Linked DNA regions of Homo sapiens. The protein of the gene in region 3 interacts with the protein of the main gene of each other region in a pairwise test. Each region holds a gene or a part of one and is shown on either strand. Other genes may lie near its edges.

Evidence for each region.
Region 1: the proteins of LURAP1 (region 3) and TPM3 interact in binary tests that used the Homo sapiens proteins (3 or more experiments, as listed by UniProt).
Region 2: the proteins of LURAP1 (region 3) and KRT3 interact in binary tests that used the Homo sapiens proteins (3 or more experiments, as listed by UniProt).
Region 4: the proteins of LURAP1 (region 3) and TXLNB interact in binary tests that used the Homo sapiens proteins (3 or more experiments, as listed by UniProt).

Annotation. Positions count from the first base shown.
Region 1 is NC_000001.11:154,189,068-154,196,900, reverse strand, and holds the start of TPM3 (tropomyosin alpha-3 chain), read left to right. Parts: upstream 1-4,800; 5' UTR 4,801-4,882; coding exon 4,883-4,999; intron 5,000-5,167; exon of another isoform or gene 5,168-5,272; intron 5,273-5,589; coding exon 5,590-5,715; intron 5,716-7,833. UniProt on the Homo sapiens protein: Binds to actin filaments in muscle and non-muscle cells. Plays a central role, in association with the troponin complex, in the calcium dependent regulation of vertebrate striated muscle contraction.
Region 2 is NC_000012.12:52,789,159-52,793,124, forward strand, and holds the end of KRT3 (keratin, type II cytoskeletal 3), read right to left. Parts: intron 3,649-3,966; coding exon 3,553-3,648; intron 3,246-3,552; coding exon 3,081-3,245; intron 2,659-3,080; coding exon 2,533-2,658; intron 2,269-2,532; coding exon 2,048-2,268; intron 1,715-2,047; coding exon 1,680-1,714; intron 1,201-1,679; coding exon 884-1,200; 3' UTR 527-883; downstream 1-526.
Region 3 is NC_000001.11:46,206,330-46,213,362, reverse strand, and holds part of LURAP1 (leucine rich adaptor protein 1), read right to left. Parts: intron 1-7,033. UniProt on the Homo sapiens protein: Acts as an activator of the canonical NF-kappa-B pathway and drive the production of pro-inflammatory cytokines. Promotes the antigen (Ag)-presenting and priming function of dendritic cells via the canonical NF-kappa-B pathway.
Region 4 is NC_000006.12:139,253,970-139,261,002, reverse strand, and holds part of TXLNB (beta-taxilin), read left to right. Parts: intron 1-565; coding exon 566-685; intron 686-5,364; coding exon 5,365-5,439; intron 5,440-7,033. UniProt on the Homo sapiens protein: Promotes motor nerve regeneration. May be involved in intracellular vesicle traffic.

The DNA.
Region 1 (7,833 bases), about 110 Mb from region 3:
AGTGCAGTGGTGCAATCTCGGCTCACTGCAACCTCCCCCTCCCGGGTTCAAGCGATTCTCCTGTCTCAGCCTCCTGGGTAGCTAGGACTATAGGTGCCCACCACCACGCTCGGCTAATTTTTGTATTTTTAGTAGAGATGGGGTTTCAGCATATTGGCCTGGCTGGTCTTGAATTTCTGACATTGTGATCCGCTCACCTCAGTCTCCCAGAGTGTTGGGACTACAGGGATGAGCCACCGCACCCAGCCTTTTTTTTTTTTTTTTTGAGACAGTCTCGCTCCATTGCCCAGGCTGGAGTGCACTGGTACAATCATGGCTCACTGCAGCTTCGACCTCCTGGGCTCAAGCAATACCCCCTCCTCAGCCTCCTGAGTAGCTGGGACCACAGGCACATGCCACCATATCTGGCTTTTTTTTTTTTTTTTTTTTTTTTTTTTGTAGAGATGGGGGTCTCACTGTGTTGCTCAGGCTGGTCTCGAACCCTTGGGCTTAAGCAGTCTCTGCCTTGGCCTCCCAAAGTGCTAGGATTATAGGCATGAGCCAAATAGCCAGCTGCTCCTTCACTTTTTTTTTTTTTTTTTTTAGACGGAATCTCTCTTGTCACTCAGGCTGGAGTGCAGTGGCGCGATCTTGACTCACTGCGACCTCTGCCTCCCGGGTTCAAGTGATTCTTCTGCCTCAGCCTCCCAAGTAGCTGGAACTACAGGCACCTGCCACCACACCTGGCTAATTTTTTTGTATTTTTAGTAGAGACAGGGTTTCACTATGTTGGCCAGGCTGGTCTCAAACTCCTGACCACATGATCTGCCTGCCTCGGCCTCCCAAAGTGCTGGGATTACAGGCGTGAGCCACCACACCCGGACTGCACCTTCACTTTTTAAATCTTCCCCCATATTTGTCTCCCAGGCCGCTTATTGCTTCTTTTACACAGGCAGTATATTTTGGCGTTAGGAGAACAGGCTTTAACACTGGACAGATCTGGGTTTCAGTGCTGGCTCTGTCACTGACTGTGTGGCCTTGTGCAAATTATTTTAATTTTCTGGGTTACAGTTCTTTATGCTGTATGTAAAAAGGGAGATAATGCCTAATTCATTGGGTTGCTGTGGGGATTAAATAAAGCACTTAGCAGCAAGTAGCACAAAATGTCCAATAAATGGTAACCCATAATGATGTTTTCTTGCTCCTATGATAGTTTTTTTCCTTCATTCCTTTCCATTACATGGGCTCCCCTTACCTCCAACCAGACTCCCTCACCAACTCCTTCTATTTTGCTATTCTTCTTTCCTCTGTTCATCTGAACCCACAGAATGCCCCATCCCCTCTGCCTTGATCCCTGACCTTGGCCTCTTCCCCCAGGGCTTGTCAGTGCCAGGCTGGCTCCAGTATTGGCAGGTTGGCCCCCTACAGAGCCCATCTCTTCTGATCCTCTCTATCTATTCTGTCTGCTCTCATAACATCACCCCATCATACCCATTCAGCCCCTCTTCCCTCTGTGGCGAATGCTATAACCAGCTCCTCTGGCTCAGAGGGGCTCAGTCCTGTTTGAAATGGCTACATAGTAGATATTTCCAGGAGAGCTAAACGGCTTGTATCAAAGGCCATCTGATGTTTCTGCCTAGGTATGCCATACAAACTCTCCTTCCAAGACAGCTGCTTCTCCCCTGCATCCATATTCCCAGTCTGCCTCTCTGTTCCTCTAGTGCCCCAAACATTAAAGTCCTTTCATTCCTGCTAGTCTCTTTCCCAGCCTCTCTTCCTCCAGCTTCTGATTCTTGAATGTGGGTAAGCTTCTCAGAGAAGGGAACTAGAACTTGAGGGGTTAAGGGTAAGAAGGGAGAGCAAGAAAGTACAAATTACATACACATCCCCTTTAGGAGCCAAAAAGGAACAAAGACATAAGACAACATCACAGATGCCTACCTTGGGGCCTGTATATGCCGATTTGTTAGTCTTCCCCTGAAAGGCAAGAGCCACACAACAGGAATTGACTGGGGCTTGGGACAAGCTATTGATCTAGATCAAGGACACTGTGGAGTTGGTATATGCTGGGGTTTGGGGTGGGTGTCTGGAATGGGAACAAGGACACATGGAACAGGCCTAGGGGCTGAAGCAGAGTGTCCTCCTCCCACCCCCACACTTCCACTCAAGCCCCCCAGCCCCCAATGCAGCTATAACTTGGGCTCTTTTCTGCCACAGTGGAGAGAAGCATCTGCCTGCCACATGACATTCAACAGACCTGATTCTCTCCAAAAGAGAAATTTCCCATGTGGGAATCCGGCTGGATCCCTGTGAGGGAAGACCCTTGGAGAACGCAGCCTGGAGTTCTGGTAAAAAGCCCTAGAAGAGGAGAGGACTCCTGTGGACTGCAGGCTGCTTCCTGGCAGAAGTTTCCTCTCTTACCCTCAGTCTAAAGCCTTAGTTTCAATTCTGCCAGGCAAGGTGGGGAACTATAAGTCTTCTCTTCTGGAGCCCACGATGGAGCCTGCCAGGGAGACAAGTTATTCTTCTGTTCTGGACATCCAAGGGTGACTTTAAGGAGGATGCCTGGAGGACATGGGGAGAAGGTGAGAAGGGTTAAGCTGGCAGAAAGGGGAAGCCAAGCATCTGCAGCACTTAAGAGCAGGACGGTGCCAGGATGGTGCCTCCTGAACGGACCTCAGTAGTCTTGTGGGGGTGATCTGGGAAGGTTAGGAGTTCTGTTGGAAAGGTAAAGCAGGGTGTACAAGTCCTCTGCCCCCACCCCGGAAAGCCTCAGGGCAGCTGGAATGGCATTGAAGAGAGCAGGTGGCAATTTTGATGAGGAGCTGCTGACACGGCTGATCCTCTGGGCGCTGGGGCCGTGACATCAGGGTGAGAAGCTCTGTGTGGGAGCTCTAGGGAACGATAGTTGCCCGGATGTGGAGCCCTGCCAGGTATTCTTCCTGGTTTAGGCCAACGTGATCCAGCAAAGGCCAGGAGCTTGTAGAGGAGGAGCTGAGGCAGGGATGACACGTAGGACAATAAGCAAGAGCTGGCTGTCTTGGGAGGTGAAGAGCAGGAGCCAGTACCCTTCCTCAAGGAGATGGCTCTCCACCTAGACATGATTGGTGCCTGGTGTCTGCTCTATTCTTTCTTTGCAACTGGAAGGAAGGCAGATGACCCCCAAAGCTCTCCTGCCTGCTTCTGTGTGATATGTTTGATATTGGGTTGTTTAATTAGGAACCAACTAAATGTCAAACATATTCTTACAGCAGCAGGTGATTCAGCACCACCCTCTTTCATACTTCAATCTCTGGGGCTCCTGTCTCTTTTACTGAACCTCTTCTCTCCAGGACCCCCCCAAAAGTCCAGTAGCTGCAACCTATGTGCATTTCAATCTTAACCTAAGAGGGCTGGTGTGGGAATGGGAGAGAGTTGGAATTTGAGGATAGAATCTTTCTATTTCTTGTCCCCTTATACTAGAAGGGACATTTCTTTGCCTTTTCTTGTCCTCGTATTTTTCTCCCCCTTATTCACTTGCCCACCCCCCCCCCATTTTCCACTCCTTCCTCTCCCTGTTCCCTAACCCCTTTCCCTGGCTAATCTCCAGAGAAAGGAGACTTGGTTTCTCCTCTCTCTGTCGAGAGTCAGCTGATGGTCTATCTGCCTATCTACCTCTAGTGACTGGAAGCTCTCAATAGTGGACTCCAGCTCTGCTCTACCCACTGGCCTGGTGGGTGTCTCCGTTCCCCCATTGCTGGGGCTTAGCATTAACTCTCAGTATCCTGACATAAATGACTAACTAGAGCCATTTATATTTGTCCAATATATCTGGTCACCTTGAACAGTGCCCACCTCTCCCTTGGCATATTTTCAGGTGTATGGTGCCAGTGGACTGGTATCCTTGCCACCTGTTAGTAACAAGGCTCCCAATGGAAGAATAAACATGGTCTGGAACTAAACTGGAAAGAATAGAGCTGATAATGATGATTACGATGATGTGGTGAGTGGCAGCGTTGGGGAGAATTAAGAAGGGAGAAGATAAAGGGAAGAAGAGGAGAGAGCCACACAGACCAAAGTCTGTGTGGGTACAACAGTTCTATTTTAAGATTACTGTGGGAAAACAAAGGGTATGATCCTGTCTGGATTGTTCTGACCCTCCCCTGTTTCTCTCCCCACCCCACTTGAAGCTCTGGGATAGCCTTCAAGGATAGGGTTGGAGATTCCAACCCTACCTCTTACTCTACTCTTGTGGCTCTTGGTGGGGAGGAAAAACGTCTCCCTGCCAATCGGAGACTCCCAGAATAGCACAGCAATTTGATCTGGGGATCTGGGAGAATTGTTAAGGATCATGAGTGACCTCCCCTCTTCCCTGTGCCCAAGCTCCTTGAATACCAGGAATCAAAAGCTAAAACTCAACTAACGGAGTTTGACCAGCATTCAACACAGTCTGGGGGAGAGTGAAACGGGAAGCTGAAAGGCAACCAGGACCCCCTGGATGCAAACTGCCAACCTAGAATTGCCAAAGTACACTTCTCTATTTCAATGTTCTTCCCTCCCCTCTTCCTCTTCTTTTAAAACATCCATAGAGCTGCCCAGAATGAGTGGAAAGTTTCAGGGTCAGGGAGAACCTCTTCCCTCCCCCACTTTCCATTGTCTAAAATCAGCCTCAGCTGTTGCTAGATATTTTTTTTGCTGGTGATGTCAGTTCATCAAAGCGTCTCACCCTGTGTTCCCCCAGGAGAACAATGATGGGGTGGAGGGAGCTGGAAAGACCATATTAGGAACAAAAGGTGGAGCTATGAGCACAGATAAAGACTCAAGTCTGGGGACCTCCTGGTCACTCAGGCAGCAGCCCCTTCTTTCTTGCCCCAGTCTCCAGTTCTCCAGTGTTCACAGGTGAGCCTACCAACAGCCACTGCTCATGATGGAGGCCATCAAGAAAAAGATGCAGATGCTGAAGTTAGACAAGGAGAATGCTCTGGATCGGGCAGAGCAAGCTGAAGCTGAGCAGAAGCAGGCAGAAGAAAGAAGTAAACAGGTAGGCACTGGCATTGATCTCTCTCATCTGCTAGTGAACAAGACTGTGAAATGGAAGGGAGTTTTCATGGGAAAGACAGTGACTACTGGTGTCACCTCCTTTTTGGGGGTGGGATGGACTCCCCAGCCTCACTGGAGGAGCAGAGGATATCTAACATATCTGTCTCAGACTGCCTTTGTGACCTTGGGAAAGTCAGTGAGCCACAGTATGTCTGCTGAATTTAAGTAGAAATGGACCATGTTTTGGAAGAACCCTTGACTTCTAGAGGAAAAGGTAAGAGTTCTAGAGGGAAAGAGCATCTCTTTTCACTCAAATAGCATCACGGGCATCTACACTTTAGATATTTATCATCCAGGGGTCTTGGATGAAAACCCAGGATGGCTTGGTCATCTTAGGATCAGAGATTACAGGGTCACAGGCCAAGCTACGGCATAACTCCTGAGGCAGTGGGCTGGAAGTGGCTGGGGAGAAAGTGTGTCTCACTAGGGATGGTAACATGGAGGTTACACTCAGGGCTCCAAGAGCCCAGGGTCCAACCCTGCATTGTTGTGTTTGTGTGTTTTTGTGTGTGACTCTCTGGGCTCCTATAGCTGGAGGATGAGCTGGCAGCCATGCAGAAGAAGCTGAAAGGGACAGAGGATGAGCTGGACAAGTATTCTGAAGCTTTGAAGGATGCCCAGGAGAAGCTGGAACTGGCAGAGAAGAAGGCTGCTGATGTGAGTATTAGAGAGATGGAGGATGGGTTTAATCTACACATATAGATCTTTATGTTAATGTATGACGAAATTCCAAACACACTTGTGGGTTCATGGAACACAGACATATATACTCACATACATTTTTGCATATAACCACATGCTGGTATATTCTCATAATGGCATGTATTTTCTTTCTTAAAGACATCTCCAACATGTTAAAAGTTTTTTTTTAATACATGTAAAGGTCTCATTTATCTCCTATCACCAACCCAGGAATTTAATTATCTTTCCCAGGACCTGGACAAAGAGAGGGGACTCTAAGTTCAGAATGCTGTCACTTATCCTACCTCCTCCCCCATGCCACATTCTTAGCTTTTATGTCCAAGTCTTGGCATGTGGATATGTGTATTAATAGGGAACCTCTCATCTCTCAACTGTCCAACAAAACCAGCTCGGATTTCACAATGGGAAATGGAGGTCACACTGACCCTGGCCATATATGGGTTTATTTATCTTGGCCAATGCAGGCATTTGCCTTTATGCCATGGAGATGCCATATGAAGCATTGCTCCTAGGGCAGCAGAGAGATCCCTACAGTGACAGAGTATAATAGAAACTAAGAAAGAATCTTAGGGGGTAAAGGTATCACCACCAGACTTCACTCTATGACCGTGAGTAATTACTCAGCTTGTCTAGGGCTGAATTTTCCCATTCTCAAATAAAATAAATTCTCTTTTCCATCTCATATTATCCCATCATCATCACCTACTTTCCTTCATCTTTAACCTTGAAGTTTGCTGCAAAGATAAATGAGAGAGTAGATTGAAAAGTTTTTTAGAAGAAAAGTACCATAGGAATCTTACCAACAACAACAGAAATGTCCCAGTATTGGTGGAAACAAGTTTCTCAGTGAACTGAGTTAATAGGAAAAAAGGAGCATGTAATATTTAAAATCATATTTGGGCTGGGTGCGGTGGCTCACGCCTGTAATCCCAGCACTTTGGAAGGCCGAGGCGGGTGGATCACCTGAGGTCAAGAGTTTGAGACCAGCCTGGCCAACATGGTGAAACCCTGTCTCTAGTAAAAATACAAAAATTAGCCAGGTGTGGTGGCGGGTGCCTGTAATCCCAGCTACTCAGGAGGCTGAGGCAGGAGAATCGCTTGAACCCAGGAGGCGGAGGCTGCATGGAGCCGAGATCGTACCACTGCACTCTAGCCTGGGCAACAGAGAGAGACTCTGTCTCAAAAAATAAGTCAATAAAATAAAATCACATTTGGTTTTGGAAAATAGCTAGAAGGACAGACAGAGTGAACCATTCATAAATGCTTTCGGATCCTCATATTTGGTCTCTCTGCCATCCGGTTTCTTTCCTTTTCTTTTCCTTTTTTTTTTTTTTTTTTTTTTGAGACAGGGTTTCACTCTTGTTGCCCAGGCTGTAATAAAATGGTACTATCTCGGCTCACTGCCATCTCCACCTCCCAGGTTGAAGCGATTCTCCTATCTCAGCCTCCTGAGTAACTGGGATTACAGGCACGTGCCACCATGCCTGGCTGGCTAATTTTCATATTTTTACTAGAGACGGGGTTTCATCATATTGGTCAGGCTTGTCTTGAACTCCTGACCTCAGGTGATCCGCCTGCCTCGGCCTCCCAAAGTGCTGGGATTACAGGCGTGAGCCACCCCGCCCAGCCAGGTTTCTTTTTATTGTTGTTGTTGAGATGGAGTCTCGCTCTGTTGCCCAGGCTGGAGTGCAGTGGCACAATCTAGGCTCACTGCAAGCTGTGCCTCCTGGATTCAAGCCATTCTCCTGCCTCAGCCTTCCGAGTAGCTGGGATTGCAGGTGTGTGCCACCATACCCAACTAATTTTTGTATTTTTTTTTTAGTAAAGATGGGGTTTCGCCATGTTGGCCATGCTGGTCTCGAACTCCTAACCTCAAGTGATCCGCCTGCCTCAGTGTCCCAAAGTACTGGGATTACAGGCGTGAGCCACTGCGCCCAGCCTAAGCCACTGCGCCTGGGCTTTTTTTTTTTTTTTTTTTTTTTTTTTTTTTTTTTTTTTTTTTTTTTTTTGAGACAGAGTCTTGTTCTATCACCAAGGCTGGAATGCAGTGGCAAGATCTCGACTCACTGCAAC
Region 2 (3,966 bases), on a different chromosome or scaffold from region 3:
TATTGCAGAGTGTCTCAATGGAATGGTGTTCCTGGGTCAGACTTTGACATAGGCTGCTCTGGGGCCTATTTCCATCCCTGGGCTTCCAGCAGCCCGCACTTTCCCGGAGCACCTTGATGGGGGAAAAGCTTTCACGATGTCAGCTGGAGTGAGAATCAACACCAAGGGAAGAAACCCTCTGTCCCCAAGGCCCTCTTAGTTCCCCCACATGAGAGAAGACAGGGAGGAGACAGATGTCTGCATGGGCCAGCCTTCACCACTAAGGACGGTAAGGGTACACAGGGTACAACAGCGTCGGGGAGCAGGACCTCTCCCTCCCCACGGTGCTCACAGAATAATGAACAACCGGATCCGCACCATGGACTGAGAAGACGAACTGCCTTTGTTTCAGAGGAAGAGTTCTCCAGCTGCTCTGTGGATCACAGAGCCCACATGGGAGAGGCAGAGGCAGGGAGGCCAGGGAGGTGACCAGGGAGCTCAGTGCCCTAAGGAGAAGGACATGGAGCGAATACTCAGAGGCCCGGAGTGAAACACAGTGCACTTTATTGGCGACAGACCGGAGGGGCGGAGGGGGCTGTGTGCTATATACATCAGAGCTGTAGTGAGCATCCCACCCAGGGAGGGGACTCCGGGGCAGCAGAAGGTGGCGGCCTAGGCCACACCTGGACAATCACAGGCACAGGCTGGAGCCGGAGAGAAGAGCCTGAAATTCTCGTGACTGGGCTTGGCCGGGGATCTGGAAGGAGGAGCAAGAGGCCACAAGCCTTCCAGCGCAGAGCCGCGTTCTTGGGGAGCATGGGGTGGCGCTGGGGGTGTTGCCAATATGGGGGCGTGGGGAGCGGAGGGGAGGCGCTGGAGTGGCTGCGATGCTGATGCGTGCTCTTTATCTGGAGTAGCGCTGGGAGGACTGGGAGGACTGGGAGAACTTGATGCTGCCGCCCCGGTTGCTGGCCGAGCTGAAGCCCCCGCCACTGACTCCATAGCGGGCGCCAGAGATGGAGCCAAAGCCGCTGCCACCGCTGAAACCGCTGCTGCCGCCGCCAAATCCACCGCCGATTCCACCGCCGCCTCCCCGGCCAAAGCCACTGCCTGAGCCGCCGCCCGCACTGAAGCCACCTCCTAAACCACCGCCCATGCCTCCGCCGTAACCTCCTCCATAGCCACCTGCGGAGGCGGAAGTCGTGCTGCTGCTGACCACGGCTGTGGGGGAGAGGACAGGACAGCGATCAGCGACGGCGCCCAGGCCAGCTGCTATGTTATTGTCAATGATCCACCGGGCCCACGACTATCCAGAGCTGATCAAGGCAGCTTTGCACAGGATGTTCACCACGAGCCGTTCCAAGGCCACTAGCTACTCACTCCCCTGCCGTTAAGCCATTATGAATTAGCCAGTGGTTCCTCCCACAGTACAGTCTTGATGACCCCCTTGGAGGGGATCTAGCGTCTGAATTTATCCTCCTATCAAGAGGCCCCCTGTTGGATATTCCACATTGGCCGTCGAAGCCTATTAAAAGTGCCCTGAACCCAGAACAATTACAAAAGCCAATCACTTCCCTCTCCTCTCCCAGAAAACCCCTCCAACTTCCGTAAAAATATGTTTAAATTAGTTGCTACTACCCTGGATTAGTGCAGATATTTCAGAATTAACTCTCATTTTCTTAGCTACTTTCGGTACTTACAGATGCTGACAGCACTCGGACACTCTCCAGACATCCTGTTTGAGAAAGCAAGAGAAAGTGGGCCCCGTCACAAAGCACATCACCAACAAGTCCACGGACCAAGGGCATGAATAGCAACCAGAGCTGAACAGAGAAGCCTGGCAAATCAGGTAAGCTTTCTCCACCCCTCTTTGGGCTGTAGCAAGGAGAGCCTGTGGGCACTGGTTGCATACGTGCCCTGGGAGGGAGTGGGCTGGTAGAGGCAAATGCTTCACCACAAGGCCTCTCTTTATACAGCAGGGCTCCATCCCCAGTTACTTGGTCACTTATCTGGCCCTTGGCCTATGACTTGAGCCAGGGGGTGTGGGAAGACGGGACTGGAGGCTCACCTGTACTCCTCGCCCTCCAGCAGCTTGCGGTAGGTGGCGATCTCCACGTCCAGGGCCAGCTTGACATTCATCAGCTCCTGGTAGTCACGTAGCAGCCGCGCCAGGTCATCCTTCGCCTGCTGTAGAGCAGCCTGCAGCTCTTGGAGCTTGGCATTGGCATCCTTGAGGGCCATCTCTCCATGCTGCTCGGCCTCGGCAATGGCCGTCTGCAGGTTGGCATTCTGGGGCAAGGGAGGTAGGAGGAATGAGCTCAGTAAGAGGGCCCCAGGCCCTTCCTGACATGCAATGGATTATCCCATCTTAAAGTCAGGGAACATTCCTCCTCCCCTAGTGCCTCCATCTTGTCTCCATTTGTGGAGATACTGCCCTGTGGGTCAGCCAGCCTGAGATGACCTCCAGACGTCTATTCCAGGGGAGGAGTCCTGAGATCCTAGCCCCTGCCCCTCAGCAATCATCCCAGGTGCCAGCATCCATGACCATCCCACCTGCTTCTTGACACCCTCGATCTCTGCCCGCAGCCTCTGGATCATTCTGTTGAGCTCTATGATCTCGCTCTTGGTATTTCTTAGGTCATCCCCATGCCTGCCAGCCGTGGTCTGCAGCTCCCCCAACTGCAGAACAGAAGGGAAGATGGGGTATTCCTGCAGCTTTGCTTGACTTGTTTCTACACCTCCAACATCACCCACCAAACCTTCAGAAGCTCAGTAAGGCATTTGCTAAAATGATACTGCATTGTGTTTCAGCAGGGAAACCCCCAAGGCAGCAGGAAAGAGAACATCTGGGTTGTTGTGGTAGAAGATTTTCCTACCCTGTAGTTCCTGAGCAAGTTGGAGTCAGTCCCACATAGCAGGCAACCATCTCCCCCAGGGGCAAGACTTTCTGCAACTGAACCACCATTAGAAGGATGACTTCAGAGGGTAAAACCAAAAGGCATTCACCCAGTGACCACTGGGAACTCACTACCCAGCTGTCCAATAGGCCATGGCCTCTCTGAAACCTCCAGTGGATCCCGTAAGAGGTGACTAGCACCCACCTTGGTCTGGTACAGGGCCTCAGCTTCGGCCTTGCTTCTCTGAGCGATATCCTCATACTGTGCACGAACTTCAGCAATGATGCTGTCCAGGTCCAGGGAGCGATTATTGTCCATGGACAGCACCACAGATGTGTCACTGATGTGGCTCTGCATCTGAGATAGCTCCTGTCAACACAGAGGGAGCTTGTTCACTTTTGGGGTCCCTGTAACAAGCACACAGGGCCCTGAAAGACTCTTGATCAACAGTCTCATTCACTGATTCCTTGCTCCACATGTGTATCAGCCACACCCTGTCCGCAGCCACTCAGAGAACCCCATGTCTGCAGCTTATCCTGTGGAATCCCTTCCAAGGGTCCTCATCTCCAGGCTCATTCCAGATGTCTTCTGGGGCCTATATACCAAAATGCACCAGCCTCAAATCTGGAAACACCTCACTCTCCCTCTGTCCCTTCTTAGTAGGTAACATCCTTACAGCGTCGTAGAGGGTCCTTAAGAAGTCGATCTCATCTATCAAGGCATCCACTTTGGCCTGAAGCTCCACCTTGTTCATATAGGCACTGTCCACATCCTGAGAAAAGAGGAAGATAAAGGCCTTATTCTCCCAATGAACAAACAGCAAACCACAACTGCAGCAAGAAAGAGCAGAGGGGACTGGTGCAGTGATGGTCCTTGTCTAAGACCAGTCTCCACTTGAACGGGCAATTTGTATCTCATTAGGATGGTCTAAGTTTAATCCTACTAAAAAACTAAAGACTGATGAACTAACTCTTTTAGGGATCTTCCAGACTAAGGTGCACCTGACTTCTGTTTATTGCTCCAAAGGCCTGAACTTGGCAGCTCTGTGGCAGTGGAGTGAGGAGATTCCCCCAACCCAGCCAGAAACCTG
Region 3 (7,033 bases):
ACTTTTTAAAATATGGAAAACAAAATGTCCCAGCACAATTACTGAATATCAATCCCTACTTGATCTGCTATGCCAATATCAAGTGCCATATATCATATTTGTGTATATGCTGTGTTATAATCTTATGAAATCACTATGGTATATGCTGTTCATCGAAACATCGTATGTTTTGGTCGTATGATGACTGAAACATCATATAAATATTTGTGTATGTGTACACACTTATATACACATAAATGTTTATATATATGTGCATATATACACACATGATAAATGTTTATTTGACATATGTAGTCTATCATTGATCAAAATGTTTATATGGTAATCCCAGCACTTTGGGAAGCTGAGGAGGACAGATCACTAGAGGTCAGGAGATCGAGACCATCCTGGCTAACACGGTGAAACCCCGTCTCTACTAAAAATTACAAAAAAAATTTTTGCCAGGTGTGGTGGTGGACACCTGTAGTCCCAGCTACTCAGGAGGCTGAGGCAAGAGAATGGTGTGAACTCGGGAGGTGGAGCTTGCAGTGAGCTGGGATCATGCCACTGCACTCCAGCCTGGGCGACAGAGCGAGACTCTGTCTCAAAAAAATAAAATAAAATAAAATAAAATAAAAAATTAGCCAAGCATGGTGGCTCTTGCCTGTAATCCCAGCTACTCGGGAGGCTCAGGCAGGAGAATCACTTGAACCCGGGAGGCAGAGGTTACAGTGAGCTGAGATGGTGCCACTGTACTATAGCTTGGGTGACAGAGCGAGACTCTGATTCAAAAAAAAAAATTTGGCCGGGTGCAGTGGCTCACGCCTGTAATCCCAGCACTTTGGGAGGCCAAGGCGGGCGGATCACGAGGTCAGGAGATCAAGACCATCCTGGCTAACACGGTGAAACCCCGTCTCTGTTAAAAATACAAAAAAATTCGCTGGGCGTGGCAGTGTACGCCTGTAGTCCCAGCTGCTGGGGAGGCTGAGGCAGGAGAATGGCATGAACCCGGGAGGCGGAGCTTGCAGTGAGCTGAGATCGCGCCACTGCACTCCAGCCTGGATGACATAGCAAGACTCCGTCTCAAAAAAAAAAAAAAAAATTTACATGGTTGTTTATGTTATACATGGTCTGACATTGACCAAAACGTCATTATGTGTGTATGTGTATTTACATATACAGGTCAGATCCCGCAGGTCACACAAACACAGTAAATGTTTTTTGTATTTGAAAAATGTTTATTGAATTATTCAGGAAATAACTGCTTTATTCACATCTATGATAAACCAGAGTAAGACCATGCATTAATATTTGTACATTGAGGCCAGGTGTGGTAGCTCACTCCTGTAATCCCGGCACTTTGGGAGGTCGAGGTGGGAAGATCACCTGAGATCAGGAATTTGAGACCAGCCTGGCCAACATGGTGAAACCCCGTCTCTAATAAAAATACAAAAATTGGCCAGGCGTTGTGGCGCACGCCTGTAAGCCCAGCTACTCAGGAGGCTGAGGCAGGAGAATCACTTGAACCGAGGCAGAGGTTGTAGTGAGCCGAGATCACACCACTGCACTCCAGCTTGGGCAACAGAGCAAGACTCCGTCTCAAAAAAATATATATATATATTTGTACATTGAGAAAATTAGACACTGGAATTAAATGGACCTAGATTTGAGTTCCAGTTTTGCCATTAATGAGCCATATGAAATTAAAATTGATTTCTTTAAACCTTCATTTCTTTATTATAATATGAGGTACTATCTAAAGGTTTGTCATGAGACATCGAAGGAACATATTAACATGCATAGCATACCATCTGACAAGTATAATACTGTAAATCAATAAATGGTAGGCTATTTGGCTCTACATATTACTATGGTCGACTTATTTACTAGTTGTGATATTACTGTGTGTGTGTGTGTGTGTGTGTGTGTGTGTGTGTGTGTGTGCAGGTTTTCATCCAGTTTTTGGCTCATAAGCCCCATAGCCATTGTTACAGTGTTTGTTATAATGCTGGGGCACTCAGAAATAGGCTTCAGGAAACAGTCTCTTTCTGACCTTCTCCTGCTCTCCTCTCACCTTCCCAGAGTAGAACTCTAATCTGATTGTGGGTCATAAGACCCTCATTCCAGAGAAGGTCCTGACTCATACCCTGGAGGAAGGAATGCCGCAGAGAGAGGCCAATAAGAATCTAAACAGACAGGCTTTGCTGGGTTTTGATCAGACCCTTTTTGTCCAATAACATTTTGATATGGTTGTCCATGTTTCAATCGTGGACAACCAATAAAGTCTCTTTAAAAGGCCCAAAGGACCAGGCACAGTGGCTTAAGCCTGTAATCCCAACACTCTAGGGGACTGAGGTGGGAGGATCGCTTGATCCCAGGAGTTCAAGACCAGCCTGGGCAACACAGGGAAACCCTGTCTCTACCAAAAAAAAAAAAAAAAAATTAGGTGAGTGTGGTATTGCACACCTGTAGTGCCAGCTACTTAGGAGGCTGAACTGGGAGGATTGATTGAGCCAGAGAAGTACAGGCTGCAGTGAGCTGTGATTGAGCCACTGTACTCCAACCTGGGCAACAGAACCAGACCTTGTCTCAAAAAATAAAAAAAGGTCCCCACAACAGGATTCAGAGAGCGTCCAAGTAGCTGAACAGATGGAGGGTGGTGCACCCAGGGAGAGCACAGAAGTTCCGCACCCCTTCCCGTATGCCTTGCCCCATGCATCTCTTCATCTATATCCTTTGTAATATCCTTATAATAAACCAGTAAATGTGTTTCCCTGAGTTCTGTGAGCCACACCAGCAAACCAATCAAACCCAAGGAGGGGGTCATAGGAACCCCAATTTGAAGCTGGTTGGTCAGAAGGTCAGGAGGCCCAGATTTACGACTAGTGTCTGAAGAGGGGGACAGTCTTGGGGACTGAGCCCTCAACCTGTGGGATGTGACACTGTCTCCAGGTAGACAGAGTTGAAATTAAATTAGTAGACACCCAGCTGGTATCTGCTGCAGAACTGATTGCTTGCTTGCTGGTGGGAAGAAATCCTCATATATTTTGGGGTCTTCTGTATTAATGATTATTGTTGTGTTGCATTAAGTGAAAAAATTAAAAAAACACACACACACAGTTTAGGGTTTTCTAAACACTATGGCAAAAGCATAGAAAAAAATTTTATACCTGAAATTATTTGTGTTTTTGGAAGAATATCACAACTCTAATTCAATTGAACAAATGACTATTGGGTACATGGATTTGCTAATAATTACAAAGATAATGGAGAAATTGTTCCTGCTTAATAGAAGCTTGCAGTCTCAATAAGGGGAGATGAACATAAATAACTGCAATATCAGACTGTACAGACTATTAACTTGATAAAGGAGATTATCTTCAATTATTTCATCCTGGAGACAAATATATGAACAGTGAAGACAACTGTCCTAGTCCATGACCAAACTAAATACATTAAACAAAGCTCCTCATACTAAAAACACTTGTCCTGCTGTTTTCCCCTCCCTCCTTTCCTTCCTTTCTGCCTCCCTCCATCCCTCCCTTCCTTCCTCTTTCCAAAATTTACATCTACAGCCGTGCATGGTGGCTCATGCTTGTAATCCCAGCACTTTGGGAGGCTGAGGCAAGTGGATTACCCGAGGTCAGGAGTTCAAGACCAGCCTGGCCAACATGGCAAAACCCCGTCTCTACTAAAAATACAAAAATTAGCTGTGTGGTGGCGGGTGCATGTAATCCCAGCTACTCGGGAGGCTGAGGCTGCAGTGAGCTGAGATTGGGCCACTGCACTCTAGCCTGGGCAACAGAGCGAGACTCCATCTCAAAAAAAAAAAAAGAAAAAAAAAAAGAAAACAACAACAGAACTTACATCTCCAGTCTTCTGCTAGATAAAGAATTAGGTGGCACCTGGTTGCACAGTTAGGGAGGGGATCTTAGAATATGACTTTTAAACATTCAACCAGCCCTTTTGTTTTCAGCCCCACTTGTGCCCCCAGTTCCAGAAATACCTGGTGCTTCCAACCCCTAAGACCTTTAAGGGTTTTTGCAGTATAAAATGTGTTGCTTTGGCAGGGGGCGGTGGCTCTGTAATCCCAGCACTTTGGGAGGCCAAGGCGGATGGATCACCTGAGTTCGGGAGTTCGAGACCAGCCTGACCAACATGGAGCAACCCCATCTCTACGAAAAATACAAAATTAGCTGGGCATGGTGTCACATGCCTGTAATCCCAGCTACTTGGGAAGCTGAGGCAGGAGAATTGCTTGAATCCAGGAGGCGGAGGTTGCGGTGAGCCAAGATTGCGCCATTGCACTCCAGCCTGGGCAACAAGAGCAAAACTCTATCCCCCACAAAATAAAAAAGTGTTGCTTTTCAGCTTTCCCCACTGCTGGCTCGGGACTGAGCATTTTTTAGGTCTGAGTTAGTTACCACTCTTCCTTCTGAATTTCAGTTTCCAAAATTTTGTTCCTATTACCTTGTCTCTTATTCTCATTGTCATAACGGCTTCATGCCTTTTATTTATTTTATTTATTTATTTTTCTCTTTTTGAGACAGAGTTTTGCACAGTCGTCCAGGCTGGAGTGCAGTGGCACGATCTTGGCTCATTGCAACCTCCGCCTCCAGGGTTCAAGCGATTTTCCTGCCTCAGCTTCCCTAGTAGCTGGGATTACAGGTGCACCACCACGTCCAGCTAATTTTTGTATTTTTAGTAGAGATGGGGTTTCACCATGTTGGTCAGGCTGGTCTCGAACTCCTGACCTCAGGTGATCCGCCCGCCTCGGCCTCCCAAAATGCTGGGATTACAGGCATGAGCCACCGTGCCGGCCCTCAATCTGGTATCTTGAACTGGAATTCCCACTGACTTTATTCATTCTTCAAGCCCCAGCTCAAATGTCACCTCCTCGAGGAAGTCTTCCTTGCCCTTCCTCGAGATGGAATTAATCCATTCAGTTATGGAACCAATATTTATTGTTTCTTATTGGTGTGGCACTATGTTCGATGAAGAAAGAAAAGGCATCATTTCTTACCTTCAGAAGGTTCATAATCTAGTGGGTAAGATAAGACAATGAAGCAAGCACTTAAAATTCAGTGTGGTTGGCTTGGCATTGTGGCTCAGCCTGCAATCCCAGAACTTCGGGAGGCTGACACAAACGGACTGCTTGAGGCCAGGAGTTTGAGACTGGCCTGGGCAACATAGCAAGACCCTGTCTCTATTAAAAAAATAAATAAGGCTGGTGGGGTGGCTCACACCTGTAATCCCAGCACTTTGGGAGGCCAAAGCAGGCAGATCACTTGAGGCCAGGAGTTCAAGACCAGCCTGGCCAACGTGGTGAAACCCCATCTCTACTAAAAATACAAAAATTAACTAGGCGGGTGCCTGTAATCCCAGCTACTCAGGAAGCTGAGGCAGGAGAATCGCTTGAACCCGGGAGGCAGAGGTTGCAGTGAGCCGAGATCACGCCATTGCACTCCAGCCTGGACGCCAAGAACGAAACTCCGTGTCAAAAAAAATAATGATAATAAATAAATAATTTAAAAATGAAAAGTTCAGGCCAGGTGCAGTGGCTCATGCCTGTAATCCCAGCACTTTGGGAGGCCGAGGCAGGCAGATCACGAGGTCAGGAGATCGAGACCATCCTGGCTAACATGGTGAAACCCCGTCTCTACTAAAAATACAAAAAATTAGCTGGGTGTGTTTGCAGGTGCCTGTAGTCCCAGCTACTCGGGAGGCTGAGGCAGGAGAATGGGCTGAACCCAGGAGGCGGAGCTTGCAGTGAGCCGAGATCGCACCACTGCACTCCAGCCTGGGCGACAGAGCGAGACTCCATCTCAAAAAAAAAAAAGAAAGAAAGAAAGAAAGAAAAGTTCAGTGTGGCAAACGCTAGTGGAAACAACTGCTATACAGAGGACTGTAGATACCTAGAGGGCCATAACCTAACCAGGTCAGGAAATGCTTCCTAGGATAAGGGACATGAGCTGAAAATTTAAGGTTAAGAAGGACTCAGCTAGGATGGGCGCAGTGGCTCACACCTGTAATCCCAGCACTTTGGGAGGCTGAGGCAGAAGATCACTTGAGGTCAGGACTTCGAAACCAGCCTGGCCAACATGGCAAAATCCCGTCTCTACTAAAAATACAAAAGCTAGCTAGGTGTGGTGGCACATGCCCATAGTCCCAGCTACTCAGGAAGCTGAGGCAGGAGAACCGCTTGAGCTTGGAAGGCAGAGGTTGCAGTGAACCGACATTGTACCATTGCACTCCAGCCTGGGTGATGGGAGTGAAACCCTGTGTCAAAAAAAAAAAAATAGAAGGACTCAGCCAGACAAAGAGGTGGAGAGAAGCATTTCAAGCAGAGGAAACAGCCTGTGCCTCCTTCCAATTTGAAATCGACTTTCTAGAGCACAAACCCAACCACATCACTCTACAGTGAAGACTCTTCCAGGAGGCCCTTCCTGGGTTCTACCAGCACTTATCATCCTGTACTAGAAATGTTCTTCTGTCTCCTCCTTCCCTAACCAGACTGTGAGCTCCCTGAGAGCAGATCCTGCCCAATCCATTTCTGGTGCTTGGCCCAGTGCTAAGGAGGTCACATTCAGTTCTGTGATTCTCTTGCCTTTACTATCCTTGACCCCTTTGATGGTTCCCAGGATTCAGGGGTCTGGGTTGTAGTGTGTTGCTGGGAAATAAATCTGAGAGCAGATTCTATAATCCTGTGGCAGTGGGATTCCCTGACTGTGACAGCATCACTCCCAGAATAGAAGAAAGCAAGGTTTTCTTGCCAGAAAAAGAAACACTCTTTTCACACCATCTCTTGAAGAAAATAGAGTATAGGATAAACAGCTCAGGAGAGATGCAGCCTCAGAGGCGACTCCAAACCCAATTCTCCTTCCAAGGAGATTCAGGCTCCCTACTCCTCTCCTTAACATCTACATACCAGACTCTCTGCCCAGCGCTGGGGTCCTGTATGGTTTCCTCATTGCTCAATATAAATCAGGCCCTAGGGTAAAAGCCTGGAAATCCCAGTCCGAGCTCCCAGAGCGGGGACTATCAGAATATTGTT
Region 4 (7,033 bases), on a different chromosome or scaffold from region 3:
ATCTCCACCAGAGCAACAGAGTAGAATTCAGGGGGGCTCAGGCCTCACTCCCAGACCTCGGACCACATGCTGGCACCCCAAGGCTTTCTCACAACGCCAGAGGCAAGAATGCAGAGAATTCATCATGATAAATTGCACAAGTGTTGCAATTAAAAGTGGTTTTATATTCACAGAAAGAGCCAAAATACCAAATGATACAACTGTAGCCCCTGTATATTGTATACTGATACATCATTGTCTGTGCTGTCTAGCATAATAAATAGCATCATATCTAATAGTTACCAAACGTAGAAAAATATTGTATGGATCTTTTGGCATTGACACTGCTGAACTCTGGTGCCTCTACCTTTTATAGCTAGCTTTGTGTGTGTGGTGCAAAGTCAGGGGGAGGGGTTCACCAATTTACAGCTTTATTATAAAGCTGTAAGTGATGCCAATGCATTTATCCCTCTCTTCTTTTAAATCTTAAAACCTGGGGAATGTGTATTAATGTGAATTATTTTACTTTGCATTTTTAAGCACCAATAATAAACCAAGCTTTCTATGTACACTTTATTTTTCTTAGCATCTGGACAAAATATTTAAACACAGAGAACTGCAGCAGAAGCTGGTGGATGCAAAGCTTGAGCAGGCCCAAGAAATGATGAAGGAAGCGGAGGAGCGACACAAACGAGAAAAGGAATATGTATTTATCATTTTAGTCGTTGTGCATATCTGGTCTACCTCAGTGTCAGAGACACTCTGAGCAAGTTGTTTTGTATTTATTTATTTATTTATTTATTTGAGACAGAGTCTCGTTCTGTCATTCAGGCTGAAATGCAGTGGCGTGATCTCAGCTCACTGCAACCTCAGCCTCCAGGATTCCAGCGATTCTCCTGCCTCCCCAAGTAGCTGGGATTACAGGTGCCCACTACCACAACAGGCTACTTGTTTTGTATTTTTAGTAGAGACAGGGTTTCACCATGTTGGCCAGGCTGGTCTTGAACTCCTGACCTCAGGTGATCCGCCTTCCTCGGCCTCCCAAAGTGCTGGGATTACAGGTGTGAACCATCGCGCCTGGACGCAAGTTGTTTTTATAATGGTCAAAGAGCACTAGACTGATGGAGAAAGAGCCCCAGCTTCTATGGAGAACTAAATTAGCCAGCCCAGTCTGAGGCACTATGTCTACACTACTTTCTACATAAAATAGTCATTCATCTATTCCACACATATTTTTCAAGTGCCTGTTATCTACTAAGCACCGTGTTAGGTGCGGGGACATAGCCGTGAACAAGACAGAGAAGGGGCATCTCCCACTATGGAGATTAGAGTCTAACTGGAAAGAGACAAGCAATAGACAAGCAAACAGGGAAGGGTCATTTCAGACAATAATCACCACTACTAAGGAAGTAAGGAGAAACTGAGAAGGGGCCAAAGAAGGGGACGTACTTTAGATTGAGTGACCAGGAAGGCCTCCTGGAGGGGCGAATGCTTGAGCTAAGCCCTGCCAGATGAGGAGCTGCTACTTGGAGCATCGTCTCCAGCATCTGCAGCAGCAACAAACGCCCTAATGCTGGAACCAATTTGGTGTGCTCCAGAAACAGGAAAAGGTCAGGGAAGCAAGAGCATGGGGGAGAGGTTCAAAATGAAGTTGGAGAGGTAAGCAGGTGCCAAACTGTGTAGCTTTGTAGGGCTTAAAAAGTTATTTGGATTTCATTCTAAATACAATGGGAAAGTACTGGGTGCTTCTGCAAAGGAAGTGATGGCATGATCTGCTCTGCATTTTCTAAGATTAATTTGGCTCCTGGATGGAAAATAGACTGCAGAGGGACAAGAGAGCAAGAAGACAGGAGGCTACTATAGCAATCAGATGAAATATGATGATGACTTGGTTTAGGGATATGGCAGCAGAGAAGAGGGGTGGAGATGGATGAAAGTTGTTTTCAATGTGAAATCAACAGACAGTGCTACAGACCTGAAGCTGGTGACAAAGAGAAAAGGAGAAAGTCAAGGATGACTCCTAAGTTTTGGGCTGAGGAAACTGAGTGGTGGTGTTTATTGATATCTCATTAACCCCAAGCACTCCCCAAAAAGCTGTAGGGTCATTCTACAGATGAGAGAATTGAGGCTCCAAGAAGATACGCAACTTGTTAAGGTTGCACACTGCTGACTGAGCAAGATGTGTTTTGATCTTATGTGCGTCTGTTCCCAAAGCCCACACTCTCTGTGACGGTGCATCACACTCAGACGTGTGTTTCAGAGGTATGAGTTGACGCATGTATCTGTTGCTGGGGTGAGAGAGAGGTAAAACATGGTCCATGGACCACTTATTCAAATTTGGCCATGTCACATTTTGATCTTGAGATTTTCATTTACCTAAAATCAGACCAGAATCAATTCAGTTGATTAGAATAGTAATTTTAAAATAAATTTTCAAACATGGCAACAAAAAGACAAATTTTGAGCAACATAATCTGGTGGACATTGGATAATTTCAAATCAGAAGTCCATGTTCTCTTAAGAAAAAGATTAATTTATGAAATCCATCTACAACCTAGCTCTGAAAGCAAGAAATAAAACATTCAATTATTATTCACAATCCAAGAGAATAGAAATTCCACCATTGGTGTAATTACCTTCTTGGGTAAAATATGCTTCCCATAGTATATTGGTACTTTGCTGTATAACACGAGACATGAAAGAGAAAGAACAAGACAAAGATGCACATGAGAGACATTGGAGAGCAGATTTGAGACGACCCAGCCTTAGCAAGAAACTAGCACCTGTTTTGGTTCAGCAAAACAGATTTGAGTCAAAGAGAGGGAGCTCATCTCACTTCTTCGAAGCTAGCCACCTACCTGGCTTGCAGCTGGGGCACCTCCTTTTGGAAGCGATGAGATATCAAGTCACCCAGGCAGAATAGGCAGCCACCAGCCTCCCTCGAGGTTGGGGGTCACCAATCACAACAAAGCTGCATAGCCAGCTCACAAGAAGCAGGCACAGTGCCACCACTCCCCTCAGATGGCCAGAGGGGACACTGTAGGGCTTCTACTCCACAGCTGCCCCAGTCCTCTCATAGGACCATTTGGTTGCACTTCTATGAGAATCAATCTTCATTGCACCCTGGGAGGCATAGAGGAACAAATGCAACCCATTTTACAAATGGAGAGGCTGGGTCATGGGAAAAAGACAAACTTAGATGAGGAAAAAGAAGCTTTCCAGTTTTTAAAAGTAATGATTTTATTGTTAGTTTTTTTGGTTCTGATTATATAATACATAGACCTCGTGGACTTTTTTTTACAATAGGGATAAACTAAAAGTGGGAAATTTTAATCAGCTTATCTTCAAATACAAGAGAAACTTCTTAATTGATAGCCTCCAGACTGACTAGCCAGATTGATCTCTGCGTTCACTGTTTTCTCTGTAAAACGCACTGACCGATGCCCACAGCATGCTGACTTGCAGGTCTACCCAGCCACTCTCTGGAAGGGCTACAAAATTTGCCCCAGTTTAGTAAGGTGGAGCTTACCAAGAATCAGCTCTTTGCACAAACCTTTTCTTTCCAATTGCACTTGCTTTTGTGTAAATCAACAGGATGTTACATAAACTGATGAAATATAAGTATGAAAACAAAAAACTGTTTGTGCAAATTATGCTTAGTGCTTTGAAAGACCAAATGCAAGCAAATGGCAAAAAACAACTGTCAAACTAGATATGAGTAGCTATAAAAGACTGGGGGGAAGTGGAAAACTCTAGAGAATTATCCAGACAAGCTGCTTCATAAGTATTTTTAGGTTCTAGCACTATCGCTAAACACACACACACACAAGCCTAACAACCTAGAAATCTTACATGGCACACTGTGGATGTGATTTTTAAAAATAATAATAAAAACCAAACAAAAAACCCTCTGAACTCTAATCAGAAGATCCATACCCAAAACAAAGACCACAGCCCTACCTCAAAATTGATAAATAGGCATTCATCTTAAGTTAAAATTACAAGCTTATATATGAATGTGTCATTGTATGCCCAAATCCCCTTTCCAATTTAACCCATCAGCTCTCAGGGGCCAGGATTTAGACCAATAGGTCAAACTTCTAACCCATACTTCTCAAAATGTAATCCACAGGCCACCGATATCCAGACCATTTTGGGTATTTTCTTGAAGCATAGAATTCAGTCACACTCTGTACTTCCTAAATCATATTATCTGAGAGGCATCTGCATTTTTAATATGTTCCGTAGGAGATTCTGATGCATGTTAGAAGCTCTGTGTCAGGAATCAGGGACAAAGACCAAGGACATACATAGTTCTTATTGTATCAAGTGTGCTATGGTGGAGAACAGTGGTCTAGGAGAATGATTCTGGATGTACTCTAAAGAAACAGTTGTTGGCCGGGCACGGCGGCTCACGCCTATGATCCCAGCACTTTGGGAGGCCGAGGCGGGCAGATCACGAGGTCAGGAGTTGGAGGCCAGCCTGGCCAACATGGCAAAACCCCGTCTCTAGTAAAAATACAAAAATTAGCTGGGCATGGTGGCAGGTGTCTGTAATTCCAGTTACTGAGAAGGCTGAGGCAGGAAAATTGCTTGAACCCAGGAGGCGGAGGTTGCAGGGAGCTGAGGTCACACCACTGCATTCCAGCCTGGGCGACAAAAGAGAAACTCCGTCTCAAAGAAAAAAAAGAAAAAAGAAAAGAAACAGTTGCTAACAAAAGTGCACCAAGTGGGGATGTTCTGGAGAGGTTCCAGCAGAGGCTGAATGATTGTTGGCCAAGATTACTAGAGAAGGTTCCAGAATGTGGTGGGAAGTTGAATTTTTTGTGATTCATACTTGAGCTAGAGACTATTTTTTTTATTAAAACCACTAGTTTATAGTTGAGAATCCAACTTTTTTAGACCAATTATTTTCTTAGCTTTCTTTTTCTTTATTTTTTTAGAAATGGAGTCTCACTCTATTGCCCAGGCTAGAGTGCAGCAGTGCCATCATAGCTCATTGCAACCTGGGATTCCTGGGCTCAAGTGATCCTCCTGCCTCAGCCTCTCGAGTTGCTGGGACTGCGGGCATGCACCACCACCCCTGACTAATTTTGGTTTTTTTTTTTTTTCAGTGACAAGGTCTCCCTATATAGCCCAGGCTGTTCTCAAACTCCTGGCTTCCAGCAATCCTCCCAGCTCAGCCACCCAAAGTGCTGGGATTATAGGCATGAGCCACCATGCTGGGCCTGGTTTTTTAAGCTTTCTTAGATTCTTTTCAAAGTTCCAAAAAATTACTTAAGGAGGTTAATGAGCAGGTTGCTAAGTTTTGTAGACAAATTACAGCCAAATAGTAATCTAAAAGGCAAATCTGACCATCTTTCCACACACTCTCTCTTCTCATAGTTGCTGAACCAGGCAGCAGAGTGGAAACTTCAGGCGAAAGTGCTGAAGGAGCAAGAGACAGTCCTGCAGGCTCAGGTGAGGCCAGGTGGACGAGGCATGGGGGTGCTGTCCTCACTGTCCCCAGATAAAAAGGCTGGGGCCAAAGGTGGGCAGCAGAAGTCCTCCTATGTGGCAGGGGATGGGGGGATGGGAATTGGAAATGAAGAACAACTTCACATTTATTCATATTTTCAAGTAAAAATAAAAGCACAATATTATATCTATGAAAAAGAAATGTTCTGCGCCGGCAACATCCAGTCAAAGGTTTGTTGACAGACAATGGATGACAGTACAGTGGTCAAGAGAGTCAGCCAGTGTCCAGGTTCCCATCTAGCACTTCTTATTTCCACCGTACTTCCCCTCTCATTGCCCTGTTAAGGTAAGAAGAAAACGTAAACTGCTCAGATGCACCATCTATGACTGGCGATTCTTAAGATGTCCTCATGTCTTGATATTATTTATCATAAAAAGAAAATGAGGCCGGGCGCAGTGGCTCACACCTGTAACGTCAGCACTTTGGGAGGCCCAGGCGGGCGGATCGCCTGAGGTCAGGAGTTCGAGACCAGCCTGACCAACATGGTGAAACCCCGTCTCTATTAAAAAATATATAAACATTAGCCAGGCGTGGTAGCATGTGCCTGTAATCCCAGCTACCCAGGAGGCTGAGGCAGGAGAGTCACTGGAACTCAGGAGGCGGAGGCTGCAGTGAGCCGAGATCACATCACTGCACTCCAGCCTGGGCGACAGAGTGAGACTCCATCTGTTTAGAAAGAAAAGAAAAGAAAATGAGAAAAATAGTCACCACTCAAGTTTCTATGCCATCAGAGGTTGGCCTTGTCAGTGGTGAATGGATACAAGTGTCAGGCAAGTCAGGAACCATTTTGGTTTGGCTGCGTGACAACTTTTATGTGCTTCTGTTAGACTCTGGGGGTTCCTATTTCAGACTCAAAAAAAGGGGGGACCATTCTGGACATTTATGCCACAGCTGACTCTGGAAGAAAGCCAGACCTACCCATCTTACCCCTACCTGGGGCTCTGCCTGTCCTAAATAATGGTCCCTGTGGGTTCCAGGAGTACCATCCTGCCACAGGCCACAGACTTCCACTGCCCTGGGAAACACCCAAGTGCTAAAGGGACTGTGAGGTCACAGGGAGAAATTCACCGAAGGCAAGGAAATCAGAAACCTTCCAAGCTGGGCAGCATTAATTTAAGATTTGTAAATGTTTATATGCTGACAGCTGAGTACTTGTTCACTGTAAACACACACACACACACACACACACAAATCGTGTTCATTGTAAAAGAAAAAAGCAAATAAGAAATTTAAAATCACAGATTATACTACTGCACAGACAAAAATACAGGGAACATTTTCATATCTAGCCTTCTTAAAGTATATTTCTGCAATGCATATATAGCAAAGCAATAATAAATTATTTTCTCCAGTATGAACTACTCTCTGATAATAAAGAAGAATTGTCTTAATACACTAGATACATAGAAGTTAGAACCATAATGTGTCTGAAGCAAAGGGCCCAGAGTTACAAACTCAAGATCATCCTTTAGGCAGTCACGGAACTCATCACATCATGGTGTAGGGTGGGTGGCTGACTGCTGGCTGTCTAGCAGA